2 separate regions of the Homo sapiens genome follow, and region 1 is linked to region 2. Evidence: fine-mapped expression QTL. Tissue or cell type: whole blood. Region 2 holds a variant in brackets; the other region holds the start of a gene. All regions are shown on one strand. Distances are from middle to middle.

The links. PIP is the estimated chance that this variant, and not a neighbour inherited with it, causes the effect.
Region 1: ARHGEF28 starts here. The variant in region 2 is fine-mapped to the expression of ARHGEF28 in whole blood (TOPMed, PIP above 0.99).

What each region holds. Positions count from the first base shown.
Region 1 is chr5:73,621,631-73,629,723 of GRCh38, forward strand. It overlaps ARHGEF28 (Rho guanine nucleotide exchange factor 28), which reads left to right and starts at 4,566. Exons shown (of 36, transcript NM_001177693.2): 1 at 4,566-4,692. RefSeq lists a silencer at 4,275-4,364.
Region 2 is chr5:73,689,400-73,697,505 of GRCh38, forward strand. All of the region lies in intron 2 of ARHGEF28 (Rho guanine nucleotide exchange factor 28), which reads left to right. Among named protein-coding and RNA genes, the nearest start is that of ARHGEF28, 67 kb to the left of the region's middle. RefSeq lists an enhancer at 4,083-4,707. The variant G/A (reference allele first, on the strand shown) is at 4,841.

The DNA.
Region 1 (8,093 bases), 68 kb before region 2:
GTGCAGCTGCACCACTTTATTCCAGCCTGAGTGACAGAGTGAGACCCTGTCTCAAAAAAAAAAAAAAAAGGTCAATATGCAAAGGAAGGGTCTCAATAATGTGAATCTCTAGAGACTGGCTCTGGAGGTGGAGTAAATCTCTAGTGATAGAATTTTAGACCCTAAGGAATCAGCTGAAAAGAAACAATGTTTTGTCAATGGAGCATCCCCAGTGTTTCCAAATTGCACACGTGGAAAGTGTTGAACTCTTCATAATTATTGGGCTGGCTCCACTCAAAAGGCGTATTTATAATTTCCCCAATATCTTCCTTTTGCTCATGTAAATACCAACATGAAAATATCAGCCACAATGAGTTCCATGTGCTTTCCTAAAAATACCTGAGACTAATATGGACTTCAAGAACATAGCTGCATTATGACTTTTGTAGGATCTGGGCACTTTTGCCTTCATACGCACCTTCCTCCAGAAAAATAAAAATGTAGATAAAAAGAAAAATTATATTTCACTATTGCATTGTTATAGATACAAATATATTAATATTATATGCTAAAACATTTTCTTTGACCTAAAAGTTCATTTTTCTCTTCTGATTTTAAAAGAAATTAAAATATTTTTTGGCCCCTATAAGTATTATAGACCCTAGGCACTGAGCTTGCTATACCTGACAGGTAAGTTGCCCCTTTAGGGAAGACCTCATACTGAAAACTGGCTAAAAACAACCTATTATTTTCTTCAAAGATTGCAAAATATTAATTTTTTGCATAGTTGGTGCTCAATAAATATCAGTTGATTAAAAATATTCAGAGATGTTAAGACTTCTCCTGTAACAAATCTGAATATTTCTCTCTAAATCTATTATTTCGCTCCTCAGAGTATGGTCCACAGACCAGTAGCCTCAGCCCCAACTCAAACTTATCAGAAATGAAGAATATCAGACTCCATCTGCTACTAAGTCAGAATTTGCATTTTAACAAGATCCCCAAGTGACTCATATGCAGATTACACGGAAGCCCTGCTCACCTGCAATTTAAACCTGATGGTTTAACATTGGAAATGGAAGAGCTGATTCCCCTTAACCACATATAATTGAGTGCGATCCTCACCCTCCTCCAGTGTCAATACATTCAGTTCCTTTAGTCCAGTGGTTCCCAACTTTGGTTGAACATTGGAATCACCTGGAGAGCTTTCAAAAAACGACCAATAACATGGGCCCAATTTTCTGGAGATTCCGAATGATTGATCAGGTGGGCGTTCTGGGAATCAAGATTGTTTTAAAGCTTCCCAGGTGATGCTAATGTGTAGCCAGAATGAGAACTACTGTGTGGATTTCCCCATGAGATCTGTCCCCTGGTTTTAATAATGTTGGCCTCTTTTCTCTGTGTTCTCCGACCTTCCTAGGCTGGACAACCAAGTTTATAATCCAGAAATAGTTTCTTGTCTTGGGGTCTGCCATGCCCTATTAATTATCTCAAAGCTCTGAAGTGTTCTCCTAATACAACCATACACTAAAAGATTAACTGCCACTATTTTCCACATCCTTATTATGTGTCCTGTAATCACTTTCAGTCACGTAATCCTCACAATGATAGTATATGCTGTTCTTATGCCCATTATACAGATGAGGAAATGGAGGCTTAGAAAGGTTGTATCTTCCCAAGATCATCCTATTTGTATTCCAGAGTTTGTTCACCTCCTATTAAATCTACCATTTTCTAGTATCTTGCTTTCACTTAAGAAACACTAGTAATTCCCTAACTCACGTGGCTAAACATCAGATTTACAATTATCCAATTTTTGAGAATTATTGACAAAGGAAATATAATGAAGGCCAGGAAATAATTAAATAGATAATATAATTAGCAGTGGTTATAATTCATTAAAGTTTGAAAATGGTGACATTTTTCTTCTTGCATAATGGATGTGATAGTTCAATTAAAAAACAAATACTAAATACTCCAGAAATGCCCTGTGTTGGGACTGTGAAGATTACAGGGGTAAGGAACAGGTTTTGTCCTTGAATTTCAAGTTGAAGGGAGGATAAGAGCCTACAGTTGTCCAACATGTGACAGTTAATATAATCAGGTGCTACACTGTGTAGTAAGGCCATTATGCTTTGCCAAAATTCAGAGGGTAGCAGAAACCAGGACAATGTAAGGATTTATGGAGGAGGTCTATCTGGAGTGAAGTATGTAAGGATGAATGGGGATTGAATCTCTAGAAAAGACAGAGCTGAGCTAGGACATTGGCATAATACTCACTAGGCAGTTAGAATTTCCCTAACTGAATGGCCAGCCTGGTTTCTTGCTGGCTGAATGTCCCTTGTCTGTAGAGAATATATAGTCTTTGAATTCAAAACAAATGCTGTCCCAGCCAAGCTTAGTGCCAGCAATGTCCTGAGTGACCTATATCTGGAGCAGTGAAATCAATCAGGTGCAAAGGGTTATTTACACAACTGATAGCTTCCTGCCTCAGATAGTCACGGCTTCTTTTAAGGTTGCTGAAGCAAACACTTTGCTTAATATTTGAACCTAGAGAAGTTGAAAGCCAAGTACGTATTTAAATATTGATCAAGCTCAGGGCTTGAGAGCAGGCAAGAAAACTGCAGCTAGCATTGTATGTCCTTGGGTGGTGAGAGTTTCACAATTACTAGTTTTGCTGGTTTCTTTTTAGTGGGGAAGGGGCTTGGGGGTAACTTCTTATAATATTTGTTCCTCTTTCCACATTTTTTTGTTTTTTAAAAAAAGATACATACCTGCCAGAATTAAAAAAAAAAAAAAAAGAAAAAGAGGGCTTCAGTACTAGTGATATGAAAAAGGACAATAACAACAAAGGCTTCTAACACATCACCATGTTTATTCACCAGAGTTTGGAAACCATTTTTGTCTGGCATGTTGATTCAGTTAATCTTCAGTTCAAGTGATTCTCCTGCCTCAGCCTCTCGAGTAGCTGGGATTACAGGCACGCACCAACACACCCAGCTAAATTGTGTGTTTTTGTGGAGACGGGGTTTCACCATGTTGTCCAGGCTGGTCTCGAGCTCCTGACCTCAGGTGATCCACCCGCCTCAGCCTCCCAAAGTGCTGGGATTACAGGTGTGAGCCACCACGCCCTGCTCAAAATTTTTTCTATTTTTGAAAAGAATATTATTGCTTTTATTTTTATCTTGTGTACCTTGACACTGGGCAGGATATATATATATATTTTTTTTTTCTTTTTTTTTTTTTGTGGCAGCGCCTGAGGCCAGGCCTTGAGTTCACAGCTCTGTGGGGCTGAGGGTGGAATCAGCTGGGATGACAGCCCAGGTCAGGAGTGCAATGCCAGTGTTGGGGTCCCTTTCCCAAGGCGGAATTGCAGCCTTTGCCTTGGAACAGGGCTAAGGCATTCAGACACACGATGGTCTTTCTCTTGCTAATCTCAGCCTTTCTCAGCATTCGTATCAGCAAGGTGGGCTGGGGAAGGTGGCGGCTGGAAGGGAGACAGAAAAGGCCCAGGCCCAGGAGAAGTGGTGGTGGCAGCCTGGGAGCTGGGCTCCATTCTGGCTTGGGATCTTGGTGGCCAGCTTCCTCGGGCCACACCTTTGTTATGGTTCTGTGCGTAGCCAGTCTTCAAAGGAAAAACAAAGCAGAGACTCAAGGTGATTTTATAAATTTTATTAGAAACTTTATATTTCAATACTAATTTCCTTACAAATAGTCTTAACTATAACACTTACTGCCACAGCAGTCTCAGATGGGCAATTTTACCTTTAAAGCTGCAATAATGGTCTTAAGTCTGTATATGAGAGCCTGGCTGATGAAGAGGCTTGGCTTCTGCTCTTGGGGCTGTCATCACATCTAAGAGGAAAACTGCTTTGGAGGATAAGGAAGTCCCTTCACATTGCTGTTCATTGTAAAAGTGGTTATGGTTTTCATACGTTTTTGAATTAAGACTTGCAGCCACTTGCGTGCATAAACGTGAAGGGAATCGCAGCTTGCAAAGCTCTCGGCCAGGGAACATGAGCTTCAAATAAGAGGGCAAATGCTGTTTTTAAAAATAATATTTCCTATTGTAATAGACCCGGGCCGTATTATGTCACGGGTGTGGTGGCTTTTGGCTGGGAACAGCCTGAGCCTCCCTCGGGCCTGGCACAACTCCTTTCGCGAGCGGGCAGCCCAGCGCCTCCCTCGGGAGGCGCCAAGGCGTGGGGGCGCCCGGGGCGCAACTGGCACTCCTGTGGCCCGCCAGGTCCGCGCCAGCCTCCGCGCCTCCGATCTCCGGAGGCCAACGGCCGCAGCCCCGCAGCGGGAGGGGGCTGGCGGAGACAGCGCGGTAGGGGCAGCTTCAGGTTTCCTCCTGGAGCCGGTGTCGGGCGCGGCCGGCGGGCGGGCCTCGCCATGTGATGCGGCCGCCGCGAGCCGGGCCGGGAGGTGGGCAGGCGGGGATCCAGTGGCAGCGGGGAGGCGCGGGGGGAGCGGGGGGAGCGGGGGCGGCACCCGCTGCTGGCGCAGCCAGCCGGGCCCGGGCGCGCGGCCGCGGCTCCACCCCCTAAACCTTGGCTTCAGCCCGGCCGCCGCCAGGCGTTGGCATCGCCGGGGAGAGCCTTCCGGACTCCGGGCGGCGGCTGGCTGGGGGCGCGTTCCGAGGCGCCCTCAGGCAGGGCGCGGGGGCAGAGCCTCGCCTGGGTTCTGGAGGCTGCGGGGCCATCGCTCCAGGTAAATGCTCTTTGGGACTCCATCGTCTGCGTTTCCCTGCAGCTCTGGGCGGAAAAGTTTGTCCACCTGAGTTCGCATCCGCAGGGCCACTTTCTCCAGGGTCCCCAGGGATGCGAGGGTCAGCAGAGGTGACCGGGGAACCGCTGCAGGCGCTGCGGCGCGAGGGCTGGGCGCCGCCTCCCGCTCCCTCGGGAGCGGCAACAAGTGGAGAGGGCGGCGCAGCCTCGTGCGGCGGCGGCAGCTGCGGAGCGCGGGGTCGCTCGGGCGCACTGAGAGCCGGGGGCTGGGCGGGTGAAAGCCCCGCCAGTGTCCTTCGGGAGACAGGGAAATAAACAGCACTCCTGCGGTGGAGAAGGGAGAACGTCGAGAGTTGGTGTCCGCCCTTCCCATCCATGCTTCAGCTCCGGGACTGAGGGTGCTTGGCAGGGCCAGGACCGCAGAATGCAGACGGAACGCAAGCTCAGGACACACGCACTACCACTTACTCGTGTGGAAGCATCTGCTGTGTTTCAAAAGGCATTTATGGTTACCTTGGTTGGGAAAGGTGGTCAGAATTATGTGGGACTCCTTACGCTTATTTTATGGATTTGTTTCCCCTTAAATACCCGGGGTGTATGTGGTGGTGCCCCAGCCTTCCCGTGCTTAGGTTTTCCGAATGACAGGCCGGTGTTTGGCCAAGAAAGCACCATTTGGGTCGAGGGCTGTATGGAAACTGGGTGCTCAGGCGGCCCTGGATACCCAGCTTTGGTTTCCCAGAGACCAGTTAGATTTCTAAGAAAGAATCCATCTCTATAGGCCCACAGCGTCCCCGCATTGGTTGGCTGGGTGGGCCGAGGAACAGTGGCAACATCTGTGTTTGTGCGGCTTCTCCCGCCTTGACCCCTGCCTGGGTATCCACACATCTCCTCACACCAGGAGTTATAGAGGTTCACCACGGACCACACCAATTGGGCAAAATCCAAAGAAAGTAAGATCTTTAATTTTCGTTTATAAAGAACTGATCATTTGGGGTTCCATGGGGCCCCTGGCTTTCTGAAGCGTTGTTATCTTGTGTTCCTAGGCCCTGAAGCTGTCAGGTGTAAGTGAAATCCTGTTTTCACTGCAAAAACAAATCAAGGACCTACCCTTGTTAGGTTCTGTGGCATCTACTTTGTACATGACAATCCAAGCGTAGTGATGACTTCTGGGAAACCTGGGAAGGTTTCTCTAGATCTGTCCTGGGTTTTTAGTTACACATTCCTAAAGCACATGGGTATTTGCCTAATCTTGATTAATAGCCAAAGTAACCCCTTTGGAGTATTTGCAGAAAAGAGATGAATATGGCAAAACCCTTTGGAATTTTTAATACAACATAGTATTTCAATGTAATGTTCTGATGTGGACTCTATATGTGATTATTGGGCTGATTAACTTTGATCAAATAGGAATTTGGCTAGCATCAGATCTTATAGCTAATGGTTAGGGAAACTGAGGCTCAGAGCTAGCTATAGAGTGTGTGACTCAGATGAATGTCTTGGGTAATGGGAGAATGGAGAACAGAGAATCAGTGTTTGTCCTGCTTTTGACTTTTTTTTTTTCCTTATCAAAACCACACAATCTGGCCAACTAAGAACAGGTTGTATAGCAGGCGTGTCATTAGACTTTCCTCTGAAGTACCCAACTGTCCTTTAAGCAGTTTATAAACACTTAAAGGTAAAGAAGAAAAATAGTAGTTAATAACTAAGTTTCTATGAAATGTCTCAGAAGCCTCACTTGGGTGGGTTTCATACTTTTTTTTTTTAATTATGTGAGTACTGCAGAAGAGTTTGGAATGTTTTCTTATTGTGTTCTTATAAGAAACTACACTTGTGGCTAAGACTTAAATTGGGCAGGAATTTCAGGTGAGCTCTGATACATGACCTCCTTTAGTATGCCCCGTGAGAAAAGACTATGTGTTCTAAGTAGGTATTAAAACAAATTGCAGCATATACTATTACTTCTATATTAAACATTCTGTACACCACTATATTGGTACCCAAGCTCCAACAAGTCCTGCCAGTTTATGACCAAGGACTGAATTCCAAGAAAAAAAGATTCATGATATAAATGTTGGAAAAGCCTCACCACTTGGGCATGGCTAGGATGGTACTGAACAGAGCCTAAATTACCTAGGCTGACTATAATTTTATTATGCTTTTATTTACTAATCAGATATGACAGATCTGGTTTGTGTAGGTTTTGTGTAATTGCATTTGTATTTATGTTGCTTTTAGTGAAGCAGAGTAGCTCTGGGATCCCCCCACCGGCCCCCGCCCATAACCTTAAATAAGATTTGTTATGAAGAGGTGGGTCAACCTGGGCAACTCCTACTGAGGATGTAAAAACAGTGTTACATTTGAAGTGCACCAAATTCAGGGAATTCTGCCATGCTAAAGTTGTGCTGTAAATATGCCACCCTGTCAGACTTGAGTCCACATCTCTACTTAGGCAAAGCTGGGCTTTGAGATATTTTTCTTGCTTAAGAAGTGTAGGTCAGGTCCTGTATCACAGAGCATTTTGCTCCATTTGTATGATACTCTGCCATTTTGTCCAGTCTCTGTGACCCTTAGTTCTTTTGTTATTATCATGGTATTGGAAGTTCTCGGAAGCCCAAGGCAGTGTCACTCTACTATTTTGCCATTTTGACAATCTCTATTATGGGGCTCTCTTTCTATGAACATGTTCTTCATTTACATTCATTCAACTAATATTTGTTGAAGTCTTACTATGTGCCCAGCACTGCTCTTTGCTTTGATTCTCTGATCTTTGGATTCCGTGTTGAAGGTGACACTTTTCTGGCTTTAGAGTTTTTAGGGTCTGTTGCATTTTCGGAGTAGACTTTTGCACACTCCACATTAAGACATTTGGCTGGCCAGGGTGGGGGTGGTGGCTCATGCACATAACCCCAACACTTTGAGAGGCTGAAGTGGGAGGATTGCTTGAGCCCAGGAGTTCAAGACCAGCCTGGGCAACATGGCAAAACCCTGTCTCTACAAAAAAAATACAAAAACTAGCCAGGCATGGTGGTGTGTGGTGTGTGCCTATAGTCCCAGCTACTTGAGAGGCAGAGTGGGGAGGATAGCTTGAGTTGGGGAAGTAGAGGCTGCAGTGAGCTGAGATGGTGCCACCACATTTCCAGTCTGGGTGACAGAAAAAGACTCTGTCTCAAAAAAAAAAAAAAATTAAAGACATTTGACTGGCAAAATAAGTCATGTAACTTATTTTTTTAATGTGATAGTGCATCTTCTTAATTGACTTCCATTTTTCCCTTGAAATTTGATCTCAGGCACAATAGTAATTTGCTTATTTGTAACATTATTGCTCCTGGACTTCTTCTCCTGGATAACCAAGATAATGAGATCTGACATCATTTTTTAATGAGA
Region 2 (8,106 bases):
TGGCATGATCTTAGCTCACTGCACCCTCGACCACCTGGGCCCTAGCAAGCCTCCTGCCTTAGCCTCCCCAGTAGCTGGGACTACAGGCACATGCCACCATGGTCAGCTTTAGTCTAATTTTTAAAAGAATCCATGGCAGTTCCCTGAGTTGCAGTTGCAGAAAAAGAGAAACACTACTAAGATCAGAGAAGAAGCAGGAATTGGCAAGACTGGCAGCCAAGAGCTTTATAATATCACTTTGTGGAACCTAGGGATATATATGAGCATTGCAAATCCAATTTTTAGTCTCTAAGCAGCTTCCTGCATTCGTGCTTGAAAAGAAACTGAAGGAGCAGCACTGGAAGGCTAGTCTGTTTATTCCAAGGAGAAAAAGAAAAAACAAAAAAAAAAAACACCAGAGGCCTGCAGTCTGGTTTGAAGTCTAGGCTTAGTTTTTAGACTGAATGGTACAATAGTATTAGGAGGTGTATTTTAAGCTGGAAAGAATTGTGGTGGTGAAGCTAATGAGAAGTGCAAAAGCCTGGAAAAGGGTAAGTTAGAATCAGTGGAACCTAAGGTGTTTATTTTTCTGGCTGAAAATTCTTCAGTTAACACCACTTGGGAGCTTAAAAGTTCTGTACTGGAAATTATAAAGATATTTTTATTTTGGTTTTATTTTTAAATTAATTATTTTAAGATTTCACGTTGCCGTGAGAAAGTAGATAATTTTATTTTTAGATTATTGCTCTTAGTCTTCTTTTTCCTAGTTTGTGTGTAAAAAGAGATAGGAAACGATGCAAGGACAGCTTAAGAGGAGAGATTTTGCTTACTGGGCATTTAATTAAACTTTGAGAGAGGAAGAGATTTTGCATTTACAAGCCAATTTGTGTTTTTGCTAATGAATGCTTTTTGATTACATTTTATATTGAGTTTTCTCTACATTTTGTAAATCAAGGAGAATTATAAAACAAATACCTATTCTACTTATTTATCCAAGAGCTCCTTTTTTTACATTAATTATATTTTATTTTTGTATAAAGTATAATTGGCTGTGTGTGGTGGCATATACCTGTAATGTCAGCACTTTGAGAGGCTGCTTAGTCCTCCCTAGATCAGCCTGGTCAACATTGTAAGACTCTGTCTTTACAAAAAAAAAAAAAAAAAAAAAAAAAAGCCACGTGTGGTGGCTCAAGCCTATAGTCCCAGCTACTTGGGAGGCTGAGGTGGGAGGATCACTTGAGCCAAGGAGTTCAAGGCTGCAGTGAGCTGTAATCACACCACTGCACTCCAGCCTGGGTGAGAGAGCAATACCCTATCTCAACAAAAACAAAAGCTGTTTGTAAAGTATAATTAATGCTAGTCTTTCTGAAATATCAGTTTAGTGCTGTGAATAAAACAGAAAAGTCTTGCTTGAGAAATTGTTGGTTCCGAAGATTTTTCCATTTTTCCTCAATTAAAATGGCTTTATTTAAAATGATTAAATAACACTTGCTTATTATAAAGAATATAATAGTAAGTAAAATTATTAAAAAGAAAGTGAAGATCAGTTGAAGTTCCACCTTTTTTTTTTGAGACAAATTCTCGCCGTGTCATCCAGGCTGGGGAGTGTAGTGCGATCTTGGCTCACTGCAGCCTCCACCTCCTGGGTTCAAGCAATCCTCCTGCCTCAGCTCCCAGAGTAGCTGGGACTAGAGGCATGAGCCACCACACCTGGCTAATTTTTGTATTTTTTGTAGAGATGGGGTCTTGCCATGTTGCCCAGGCTGGTCTCAAACTTCTGGGCTCAAGAGATCCACCCACCTTGGACTCCTAAAGTGATGAGATTATTGGCATGAGCCACTGTGCCCAGTGAAATTCTCCTTTTTAGAGAACTTTATTAGTATTTTGGTAAACACTAAAATTTGTTTGGCAAATGTGTACACACACACACACACACACACACTCATGATATTTCATAAGGAATTATACGGGAATGCTGTTTTTATTATAATGGACAGGACCCCATTTCCCCTCACCCCCATTTTATAATTCCCGTTCCTGTACTCTGAGCTAACCCTTAGAGTCATCTCCTGCAGGGGTTCTTAGCAGCATCAGCATCCCTAGGAACTTGCCAGAAATGCAAATTCTCAGACCTCATGCTGGACCTACTGAATCAGACACTCTGTGGATGGGGCCCAGCAATCTGTGTTTTAATAAAACTTTCAAGCGATTCTGCTGTGTGCTAAAGATTGAGAACCATGGACTTAGTGCAAACATTTTCATGTTCTTCTGTATTCATATATACATATACAAGCTTTAGTAGAAGGATCATATTATGTGGACTTCTGTATCTTTTCCAACTCAGTGATACTTTGTATAAACTCCTATAAGCCATCAGACATAGCTCAAACTCACTCTAATTAATGAATAGGTATGGGTCAAGCTCATTCCCTATTGATGGCCATTCACTTTGTTTCAGTTCTTGGCAATCATGAACAATTATTCACCAGACATCCTGTCCATATGTCCTTATATGTTGATACTTTCATCTCTATGGGATAGATTCCTAGGAGTAGAATTGCTGGATGAAGGGCATACATATTTTAAATTTTAGTGGATTGCTTTGCAAATGAGATCTAATAGTTGACATTTTATTCAGCAACTTTCAGAAATATTTAATGTCTATTTCTTTAGCTTTAATAACTGATAATTATGTAGCTGGGGATTATGTTCTCATTTTCATTGTGCAAAGAAAGGAGGGATGTTAAATTTTGTATGTTGATTAAGTTGGTGAAGGGTTAGAAGTGTCCTTTATTTCTCCCATTTCTCAAATTCTGACTAATATGAGCATCTATTAGTCAGAATTTGACTAATCCGTGGAGATTTTTTTTAACATCTGCAGAGGGTGCATGTGTGAGACTGTGTGTGTGGGCTCTTGCTCCCTTCCACCCTTCTGAGGTGCTGTGCAGACATGTTAATCATAGCCACTGACTGAGAAGAGTGTAATCACTTTTTTCTCTGGAGGCTGCAAATTGTATAACCATTTGGGCAGTGGGAGTTTTTTGCTTCAGTAGCTTGTTTCCAGCTGGATCTAAGATACTTCGCTATTCCCTTAGCATTTTATGTTTATATTATTCTTTTATTCTGAGTCACTGTCTCCTGCTGTGTTTGGTCCCAAGAATGTTGGTTGCTGCTGGGCTCATTGTGGGTGTTGAAGGTATAATCTGATGTCTAGAGGTAGTGGGGGAAACTCTATCCTATTCAGCCTTTTCTAATTTCTGGATGTTGGTATAGCTTCCATGAATACTTGGTGGAGCATGCTCCCCTTGGTCCCAGCCTTCTGCAGGGAGGGCCGGAGGACAGGGCCCAAGTTGTCTGGATGGACTCTTCCCCAGCTCAGGGAAGCAGCTTCTTATTGAGGTAGTAAGTGACTTGGTGGCTTTGTTCTGGGGTCACCCAGCAGGGGCCTTCTTCCGGATCCCTGCAGATTCCCTGTGGCTTTTGGGTCCTGTGGAAGGAAATCCTGTCCTCCAGACACTGCCCTTCTCTCTTGGTGGCCCTCCATCCCCCAGTGGGCTACCTATGACTGGCCTCATGCCCATCAACTCGAAATATTAGTCTATGAGGGCATCTTGGGGACCTTTGCCTGGGCACCCTCACTTTGCTGATGAGGAGATTAGTCTCCAAGAGGGAGATTGACTGGCTTGACTAAGTTAACTCAGCTGGTTTGACACTCTGGATTTTAAAATGCTCTATTAGAAGTCATAAGAATAATTTTTTTTGACTCAGAAAATTTGTTAGTGGCAGATCCCACAATAAGCCTGGGGTTTTCCGACCTTCACTGGTAACGACCTTCCCCACTGCTCTGCCACATCTCCATTTCCTCATTGACCAAGTACTCAAAGGCACCATTTTATCCTTTCCTGTCCTGCAACTGCCTTTGAGCTTTCTGACATGAATGGGGCTCCTTCATGGACCTTAAATTAAAGGGTCTCTCTTTTCTTTTATCTCACTAGAGGATGCTGCTGGTAACTATGTCTAGGCAAGCCCTGACCTTCTGAAGCTCATTTGCTCACAAGAAGCCAGACCTATTAATTGATGGTCATTTGCTCCATTCAGTTCTTCCCAGCTCAAAATAATAGAAATTTTCATTAGCTCAGGTGTCAGAGGGTGGTAGGTAAGGGTGTCTTTCAAAACAGGTTAGTACAGCTAAGTCTAGCTTAGCCAATGGAATCGGGCAGGGCTTTTGCCTGAATGCAACTTCTAGATCACGTGTTTACTTTGTGCAAATTTGTTTTTAGCGAATTATATTAACTTTACTTGTGTCTTTATTTAAAACACAGCAGCATGTGCATCTCAGAGGATTGCCACCTGCTGGGGTGTTTCTGCCATTGTCAGTTAATCTGTGCTCCCTGAAGTTGGTTTTCTTTGCTGGCTTTTGTTTTCTACTAACTTAACTTGACCTTTTCCTATCCTCTCTGAATGGCCTTGCTTTTATCTCTTTGCCTTGTCTCCTGTTTTCCTTCTGAGGGGGCAAACAAATTCCAAAGCAGCAGTTCTAGCCATAGAGCAAAGAGAGGACCATGGTAACTGTTTTACCCAGCCTGGCCAGCAGCCACGAGATGTCAGTTCCTGGGAAGTCTGAAGCTCCTTAGCTGCTGCAGGAGATTGCTTGGTAGTTCTGGCAGGAGCAGAGAGGAAAAGCTTCTCAGACTTTAGCAAAACCTTTGACTTACAAACATTTTACAAATCCTCCATTAGCTTCATCCCATTTCACATTTTGAAAGAAACAGTTCCCTCTTCTCTCAATACAATGCCACTTTATGGTGCCCCCTCCTACTGTCACAACTGAGATGATAAGCTTCTGGGGAAAGGCCCAAAG[G/A]TGAATATACAACTACAGAAGACCACAGGAAGAGTCAGCCTAGCACCCAGCTTTGAAGAAATTTCTTAGTGGGTGTGAGTTTCAGGTCCGTGGGTAAGTAAGTGCCAAGTGTGCTTAAAGTCTGATGCTGCCTCACTTCCTGTATTTCAGTGACAGCTCCCACAATTTGGGTGGTGTGCAGCCTGTATTTTTAATAAAGAACTTGAAGTAGCCGATATTTTTGTTCTGTTTGAGTTTTTAAAATGTTTTACCATCTAAGTAAGGATTTTAGGCATGATGGAAATGGGTTAGAGTTTTCTCTGGGAGAAGCCTCAGTAAAAGAAATAACGTGATCCAGGTAAAATGTTTTATTTCCATATTCCAGAAAGGCAGCCCTTATAGAAGATGTGATTTAGCTATACTACCTTCTCAGCAGTTCCTCCTGCTTACACCTGAGGAGGGTGTGCATGTTTTAAATAAGTGTCTCTAGCTCTTGCCTTCTTTTCCTCTCCATATCTTGATGCTGTTACTTTTATCAAAACGGATCTTATGAAGGTCACTAAGTTTGCTCTTGCTTAATCTAAGGTGTTTATTTTCTCAAGTCCCCATTTAGTGCCATGCACTGTAAGAGCAGAGAGTGAGAAACAAGGTCTCACGTCCCTGCTCTCGCAGAATGCACTTGGGAGTAGGAGACAGAAAGTAAGTAGGTAAACGAATAAACAAATAAGAATTTCAGATGGTAGTATGGGTTAGGACAATACAAGGCTATGACATGGCAGAGAATTGTGTGTGTGTGTCATTAGTCTCTCTGGGATCTCCTGGAGAGCAGTCTAGTAGAGGGATCAGAAAGCACGAAGGCCCTGGAGTGGAAATGAACTTTTTGTATTTGAGGGACAACAAAAGGCCAGCATGGCCCTTGCATTGTGAGGGAGGGGAGAGGAGAGGAGACAGGTCAGAGAGGTGGGAGGGGCCAGGTCATGCCCATAGGTTGGTGGGGGAGTTGCATGATTTGATTTATGTTTAAAAAGTGTACTTTCAATGTTCGTGAACTCTGCTGGTTCTTTTTCAAGTTATCTCTTTGTCTATTGTGCTTTCCTCTCCTCTGTTGTGTGGGTGTTCCCCAGGGCCCTCTGCTTTCCCCTCTTTTTCTCGCGAGCTCATCTATTCTTGTTATTTAGACCACCACTCCTCCTGAAAGACTCCCACATGTGGGCCCTCTCGTCTTGACCTCTGCCCAGGCCTCGTCTTCCATTTCCAGCTGGCCTGTTTGCTATTATCACTCAGTTAGCCAGGATTTGACTTTAAGTTCAGACTGTTATATTTTTTAAAAGTTTTCCAAGTTTTCCTCTAAGCAACTCCTCTTTCCAACTTCCTGATTTCTGTTACCATCCCACCACTCTCCCAGGTGTCCTGCTTTAAGTTGAGTTTTTGTAATTCCTCCAACCTTTGTCCTCTGTCTTGATCAGTCATCAAGACCTGCTGATGGCCATGGCTGTCCTCTCTCTCTCCTCAGCCATTGTTCTAATTCACCTTTGGATTATTGCCCCTGGCCTCTTCAGAGTTGCCATTTTCTCAGAACTGGTGAAGACTTTATCATGTCTTTCAAGTATTATTTCCCTACATTCATCTCGCAACTCGCAGCCATATCATTTATCTGTTCTAATCAGACAAGTCCTCTCTACCCTAGTGGACTTTCCTCATTCTCTTATTTCTAGGACATCACCCAAGCTGTTTTCGTTCCATATCCAGGAATGCCACTAAGGTAGGAATGGGATGCAATATGGTATGTTGGTTATGACCTTGGATAGCTATGCATTTGGCCGTGCATCCTCTCCTGAACGCAGATTGTTACCCTTCATTACATTGCAATACCTAGTGCAGTGCCCAACGCACTGTAGGCTTTCACTAAACGTTTGTGGATTGAGTTTCTGGAGAATCATTGAGGGGAGGCAAGCTTGCTCTCTGACCCTTTATAGGAGCATTCCAGGCAATGGCTGTGGTCATTAGGGGGAGGGTCCCATTGACAAAAGTGTTGATAATTAAAGATGATTTGGGGTCACATATGTAGGACTGCAGAAACCCTTTACGCCATAAGCTCCAGCCATACCCTTCTGCTCTCAGTTCTTCGTGAATGCCATGCTTCTTCCTGGCCAGGACCTTTGTATGTGCGGTTGTCTTCACCTAGCATACTCTTGCTTCCTTCCCCTTTGTATAATTGAATTCTTACTCATTTTCCAGATTTCAGCTCAAATGTCACATCCTTAATATAGTCCTCTAGACATTTTCTATTTTGAGAGAGTATTGTTGTTATTGTTTTGTTTAGTGTCCCTTCTATTGTAAGCACCAATACAACAGAGACTCAAACATTCAATTAAAATTTGTAATTTGTCTTTATAAACGAATATTCATTTTCAATCTAATTTTGTTTTTATAATTTTATTCCTTTTCTGAAAGGAAATCCTTCCAATGGCATAATCTTCTAGTGGACAATTGTTTTTGTCCACTGATTTTCCAACACTAGTTTAGTGCTTGGCATGTATTACATAATAAATATTTGTTGAATTAGTACACAGTTCTAATTTAGTGCCATTCAATAAACAGCGGTTGAGGCTCCTCCTGGAGCACTCTTTAATTTTGTTGTTTGCTTATTTCTGTACTGTGAGTTTTCCCAGCAGGTATGTGACCATCACTATTTTGGGACTGGGACTGTCATTTGAGTTTTTGTATTCCAGCTGCACGAAGAGATAGAGAGATGGTCCAGCAGGAAGGTGCTGTCATCATAATCTTCAGTAAATTTGGAGGTTTGGGGAACATGTCTCAGAGTTTGAAACTTAACATTTTTAAGGTACTATATGGAATATGTAAACATTATGCAATAAAAAATTAAGGAAGTCTTTTCGAGGTAGACAATTCCTGGCTGAGAACTAGAACTTAACAGGAAGTTTTGTTAAAACTGTAGGGAATGAAAAGCTTACTTTATCAGACAGGAAGTTCCTGAAGAATCTCCTAACTCAGAAAAGATTATCTGTGAACGATGTCACATGAACTCTTTTTACCCCCTTCTTTAGCATTCTTTACTTAGTATCTCCCAGCACTTATAGTTACTGTAATTTGCATCTTTGAAAAAATCATTATGTTAATCTGTTTTCCATTACTTATAATAGAATACCTGAAACTGGGTAATTTATAAGAAACAAAATGTATATCTTATAGAACTAGAAGCTGGGAAGTCCAAAGTTGAGGGGGCACGTGTAGTGAGAGCTGCCTTGCTAGTAGGGACTCTCTGA